Linked DNA regions of Homo sapiens. The protein of the gene in region 1 interacts with the protein of each later gene in a pairwise test. Each region holds a gene or a part of one and is shown in the gene's direction. Other genes may lie near its edges.

Region 1 (3,103 bases):
GGAGGAAAATGAGAGATGGCCATGCGGTCGCTCCTTGCAAGACTGCCCGTCTCCCACACCCTGGCAGGATCACGGGGAATTCCACCAAGGTGAGATCAGTCTGTGATCAGCTTTGCCTCCTTGGCCTCTGTGGACACGGACGGAGGAGCAAGGTTGTCAGGGCACCTGTGTGAAGCAGTTTCCCTACCTATGGGACACACAGCAAGTGAGGTCTAGAGCTGGGTTCCTCAACTCTGGCGCTACTGATGTTTCGGGCTGGATCATCCTTTGCAGGGAAGGCTGGCCTGTGCATTATGGGATGTTTAGTGGTATCCCTGGCCTCTACCCGATAGATGGCCTTCGCAGTCCCTCCCCTAGTCGTGACAACCAAAAATGTCTCCAGCCATCGTCAAGTGTTTCCTGGGGGCACAGTCACCCCTGAATGGTTGTGACTGTGACCGTTCTAGACCCAATTGCTGGTCTAGAATGCAGGGTGAGGGGGACGCTTACCTCCTGCACACTCTACCCTCTGTCTGCAGGTGGGTGGGCTTTGAGCATGCTGGCTTCCAAGGGCAGCAGTACATTCTGGAACGAGGCGAATATCCAAGCTGGGATGCCTGGGGCGGCAACACGGCCTACCCCGCCGAGAGGCTCACCTCCTTCCGGCCTGCGGCCTGTGCTGTAAGTTCTACCACTGCTGCATCCCGGGGAGGCCCAAGCCCCTCATGTGGGCACTTCGGAATCAAAGGTTCCAGAGTTGAAATTCTCATGTCGCCACTTCAAGCTGTGTGACAAGGGCTGTTCAGTCTCTTTCCTCTCCAAGCCTCGGTTTCTTCATCTTGAAATGGGGCAATAGTACCAATGTTCTTGGGAAGAAGAACGTATAACATCTGACCAGAGCCTGCCTTAAACTCTCTGCTCACAGCAACCCTGGTTGTGATAGGAGCCCCTGCCAGTTTTGTGCCCTTTTTTTTTTGTGATTCAGGGACCCTGAGAGAATCTGGGTACCAGGGATGGTAGGGCCAAGTGGAGAGGAAAGGTTTCATTTCTTGCTCCTAATTCAGCATCAGTGCTCCTGATCTTACATTTTACTGCTGTTTTTGGAGTGTGGGTGGAGGTGGGCATTATTATTCCCATCTCACCAATGAAAACATTGAGGCTCAGAAAGGTGTATTTTAGGCTGGGCATGGTGGCTCACACCTGTAATCCCAGCACTTTGGGAGGCCAAGGCGGGTAGATCACTTGAGGCCAGGAGTTCAAGATCAGCTTGGCCAACATGGTGAAACCCTGTCTCTACTGAAAATACAAAAAAATTAGTTGAGTGTGGTGGCACATGCCTGTAGTCCCAGCTACTCAGGAGGCTGAGGCAGGAGAATCACTTGAACCCGGGAGACAGAGGTTGCAGTGAGCCAAGATCGCACCACTGCATTCCAGCCTGGGCGCCAGAGCAAGACTCTGTCTCAAAACAAAACAAAACAAAAAAACAAAAACAAACAAACAAACACAAAAACAACAAAGTGTGTTTTATTTTTCAATTCTTATTGATTTAAAATGACATAAGTCACCATATTTACCATCCAAAATTCTGAAGGAAAATCCTGCTATGGTCAGGGTTGAGTATCCCTTACCTGAAATGCTTGGGACCAGAAGTGTTTTGGATTTTGAATATTTTCCCCAGATTTTGCAATATTTGTAATACTTACAGTTGAGCAGCCTGAATCCAAAAATCCAAAATCTGAAATACTGCAGTGAGCATTCTTTGAGTGTCATGTCGTCACTCAAAAAGTTTTAGATTTTGGAGCATTTTGGATTTCGGATTTTTAGGTTAGGGATGTTCAACCTATACATTTGTGTCTCTATGTATATACACATCCAAATCAACATCTACATCTATATCTGTATAATCTATATATCTTATCTATATTGCACACATAATTTTGTCATAAAATTGGAATCATAATGAATCTAAGGCTTGGAAACTAGCTTTTCTCACTGAGCAAATGTGTCGCAATCATCAGTCCAGGTGATTAAATCTCACTTCCATCGTTTTTCATAGCTCCCTAGTATTCTGTTTTGTGAATAAGTCCATTTGTTCATTTATTCTGCAAACAGTCTAGATATTGTGCTAATATAGGGACCCGTGGCGGGCTGCAACAGAAACAATCCCTCATTCCCAGCAGTTTGCAACTCCTGATTTCATTTAGTCCTCAAAAGAACCCTGAAAAATGGGTAGGGTTAGTTTCATTTTATAGATACAGGAACAGAGGCTCAGAAATCCTGTCTAACCTCAGTCAGTTGGTAAGTGGCAGCTGCCTCCTAGCAGGAAGGATTTGAGATGATATCTCTACACCTCCTTTCTTTCCTTCTTTTTTCTTTTCTTTTCTTTTCCTTTCCCCTCCCTCCCTCCCTCCCTCCCTCCTTTCTTTCTTTCTTTCTTTCTTTCTTTCTTTCTTTCTTTCTTTCTTTCTTTCTTTCTTTCTTTCTTTTTCTTTCTTTCTTTCTTTCCTTCTTTCTTTTTCTTTCTTTCTTTCTTTCTCTTTCTTTCCTTTTCTTTCTTTCTTTCTTTCTTTCTTTCTTTCTTTCTCTTTCTTTCCTTTTCTTTCTTTCTTTCCTTCTTTCATTCTCTGTCTTTCTTTTTCTTTCTTTTTCTCTTTCTTTCTTTCTCTTTCTCTCTCTCTCCTTCCTTCCTTCCTTCTCTCTCTCTCTTTCTTTCTTTCTTTCTTTTGATGGAGTTTTTGCTTTTGTTGTCCAGGCTGGAGTGCAATGCCACAATCTCGGCTCACTGCAACCTCTGCCTCCCAGGTTCAAGCGATTCTCCTGCCTCAGTCTCCCAAGTAGCTGAGATTACAGGCATGTGCCACCACGCTTGGCTAATTTTTTGTATTTAGTAGAGACAGGGTTTCACCATGTTCGTCGGGCTGGTCTTGAACTCCTGACCTCAGGTGATCCACCCTCCTCGGCCTCCCAAAATGCTGGGATTATAGGCGTGAGCCACCGCGCCGGGCCTCTACACCCTTTTTCTTAACCACAGTGTAATGCCTCAGCTTACCACTGGATCCCCAATTTTGGACATAAAAGTTGACTCCTTTTTTTGTTTGTTTGTTTTTGAAAAAACTGTTATGAT
Region 2 (3,500 bases), on another chromosome or scaffold:
ACAATTGTTACATCTTCTTGCTGAAGTGAAAATAACCTTGTCTCTTTTTGTTTAAAGTCTGCTTTACCTGATATAAGTATAGCTATTCTCCCTTGCTTTTGGTTTCCATTTGTATGGATTTTTTTTCCATCCCTTATTTTTATTCTATATGTGTCTTTTTAGGTGAAGTGAGTTTCTTTTAGGCAGCATATACTTAGGTCTTTTTTTTTTTTAATTCATTCAGCTAGTCTATATCTTTTCAGTTGGGAATTTAGTCTGTTTACAGCCAAGGTTATTATTGATAAGTGAGGACTTAACATCCACCATTTTGTTGTTTTCCTGTTGTCTTGTATATCTTTTGTTCCTTTCTTTTTCTCTTATAGTTAATCATTGTGGTTTGGTGGTTTTCTGTAGTGACAAGGTTTGATTCTTTTCTCTTTCTCCTCATATATCTGCTCTACCAATGAGCTTTATACTTTTGGTGTGTTTTCATGACAGTGATTTTCACTTCCAGATGTAAGTGAAAATCACTTAAGCATTTCTGGTAAGGCCAGGTGAGTGGTGACAAATTCCTTCAGTTTTTGCTTACCTCGAGAAGGCTTTATTTCTTCCTAATTTCTGAAGGATAACTTTGCTGGGTATAGTATTCTTAGCTAGCAATTTTTTTTCTTCTTTCACCATTTTGAGTTTATAACTCTATTCTCTCCTCGCCTGTGAGGTTTCTGTAGCAAAATTTACTAGTCTAATGCAGTTCTCTTATGTGACTTGACAATTTTCTCTTGCTGTTTTTAGAACTCTCTGTCTTTGACTTGTGACAATTTGCCTATAATGTACCTCTAAGAGGACCTTTTTGGGGTTGAATCTATTTGGGGAATTTTGAGTTTCCTGGAGCTGGATGTTCAAATATCCCTCCTCCACAACCCCCACCACTAAATTGGGAAGTTTTCAGTTATTATTTTATTAAACAGGCTTTCTATACTTTTTCCTTATCTTCTCCTTCTGGAAATTCCATAATACAAATATCTGTTTGTTTAATGTTTTCCAATAAGTCTTATAGGAATTCTTCACTCATTTTCATTCTTATTTCTTTTTTCTTTTCTCTGACTGGGTAACTTCAAAAGACCTAGCTTTAAGTTCAGAGATTCTTTTTTCTGCTTGATCAAGTCTGCTGCTGAAGCTCTCTATTGTATTTTATATTTTATTCATTGAATTCTTCAACTGCAGGATTCTTGTTTTGTTCTTTTTATGATTTTTATCTCTTTATTGAATTTTTCATTTATATTGTGAATTTTTTTCTTATTTTATTTAATTGTGTATCTGTGTTTCCTTGTATCTAATTGAGTTTCCTTACAATCATTATTTTACATTTTTTTGGCAATTAATTGATTTCCTTTTAATTGGAGTCTGTTACTAGAGAGTTATTATATTCCTTTGTTGGTCTCTTATTTCCTTGCTTTTTCATGTTTCTTGTGTCCCTGCATTGATGTCTGTGTATCTAGTGAAATAATCACCTTTTTCAAACTTTCTGGAGTGATTTTCATAAAGAAAGTCTTTCATCCTGCAGTTGAGTTTTACTGTGCAGTTAGAAAAGGTGTAGTGACTCTGTTTCCAGATAGGTATAGAGATAGAGTCTCTGTGCAGCTTCTTCAGTTGTATTCAAGGTCAGGAATAACTGTGGGTGCCTCATAGCCTACGCTTAGAGGTTTGTGGCAATGGCACTGGCAACATAAGTTTTTAATGTTCTTTGTGTTAAGGGCTTCTGGGGTCCTCCTATTCTGGTTTTCTCTAAAATAAGGAGACTTAGCTGAGCGCATCCCTTTTGGTGTCAAGTCTGACATGGCCTACAAGCAGCTGCAGTGGCATGGGTTCTACGTGCAGTGATCAGGATTCTACATGCAGTAGGAGTTTTCAGCTCAGTATCTCATAAAGCTATTGAGGCAACTGGGCTTGGGGTGCAGCTTCACCCCTTGTGGCAGGGTTGGATGTAGGTTACCCATAGAGCCAGGATCTATGATTCTGAGGGACCCCCTAGCAGCTCAGGCTCAGGGTGCCAGGTTGTAGCTGTGATTCTACCCCTGGGGGGCAGGGCACAGCACTGGCCTGACTCCAGGGAATAAGGAGTGCTCTGGAACTTTGGCCTTGGGAGCAGGGTATGGCTGCAATTCAGAAACCTGAGTCAATAGGGCTCAGTGTCAACTCAGGTTCCAAGGGATGAGGCACTGGGTAGTAGTGATTGTAGACCCTGGGATAGTGGTGCTCAGCAGTATCCCAGAATGTGTGGGGCCAAGTGTATTTGCTTTCAGTACTCCAGAATGGTGGAGGACAGCTGTTGTTTGTTCCCTGGGTGACAGGTGGGTAGGAAAAAACACAGCAATGACTCCACTCCCTAGATAGAGGGGTACTTCTGCATCTGAGACTCTAGAGAGCTAGGCCAGTGCTGGGGAATCGAAGTCTAAAATTGTTCAGTTTATAGAGCAAGGTGTCTCAGCTCAGTTTCTGCTCAGCTCAGCCAGAGCACTAATTCCCCAAGGGACAATGTGCCACTTCAGCTCAGGCTTGAAGGATGTGACTGTTCTGGGCTGCACAAGCACTGTTTTCTTGGGATGCGGGGCATCAGTTCAGCTTAAGTAATGGAGTGCATGACTGCTCTGGATGGCCAAGGCACAATTTCCTAGGATGCAGGGCACCACTTCAACTTAGACACCAGGGAGACATGACTGCTCTGAATAGCCAAGGTACTGTTTTCCCAAGAGACAGGATGCTGCTTCAGCAGGGGCAGGGGGAGGAGTTGGTAGAGCAATTCCACCTCCACTTGACCCCACAGGAAAAAGTGTTAACAGCTGTTAACAGCACATATTGGGGATGTGGGGCTCTGGGGATGGGGTGGTTCAGGGGTGGTTTAGTCTCAGGGATGAAGGGGAGCCATGACTACTTACTCCTTGAGTAAGGCTCAGTCTAGCTGTAGTTCCTGTTCCAAGATGCCATAGCCAATAGTCACATGGGCCACAGCAGGTGGGGCACAGTGTCAACTCCTTCTCTGGCTAAGCACAGCTATATAGACTCCAGGCAGCTTCACCATGTGGGCTTGGTGCCTAAGAAGACTGCAGAGAACACCAGTGGGAAGGTCTGTTGGTGTCCAGGGTGTTGATGGAGATTGTTGGAGTCATCCTGCTTACCTCCTCACCATAAGAAGTTCCTCCTGGCTTCCAGCTGATCCCACTTGGGGGATGGGATGGTGAAGGCCTGGCATTTCCTTATTCTCTATGTAGCCATCCTGAGTTTTTGTGCTCACCCAAGTTTCTATTAGTTTTAAAATGCAGCTGCTTTTCCATTGTTCTGGCTGTCTTTGACAGAGGCATAAGCACTAGGGGCTTCTAGTTGGCTATCTTGCTGCTATCTCTCTGACCTTTAATACTTTTAGAAAGAAGATTAACCGTTCTCCTGATCAAGGTATCAAACTATTTATTATCTTTGACAGTACCAAAAAGTCATACATACATGTAATTCATTCATTCATATTT

The links.
Region 2: the proteins of CRYBA4 (region 1) and FHL5 interact in binary tests that used the Homo sapiens proteins (3 or more experiments, as listed by UniProt).

The regions. Positions count from the first base shown.
Region 1 is NC_000022.11:26,624,963-26,628,065, forward strand, and holds part of CRYBA4 (beta-crystallin A4), read left to right. Parts: intron 1-518; coding exon 519-660; intron 661-3,103. UniProt on the Homo sapiens protein: Crystallins are the dominant structural components of the vertebrate eye lens.
Region 2 is NC_000006.12:96,569,628-96,573,127, forward strand, and holds part of FHL5 (four and a half LIM domains protein 5), read left to right. Parts: intron 1-3,500. UniProt on the Homo sapiens protein: May be involved in the regulation of spermatogenesis. Stimulates CREM transcriptional activity in a phosphorylation-independent manner.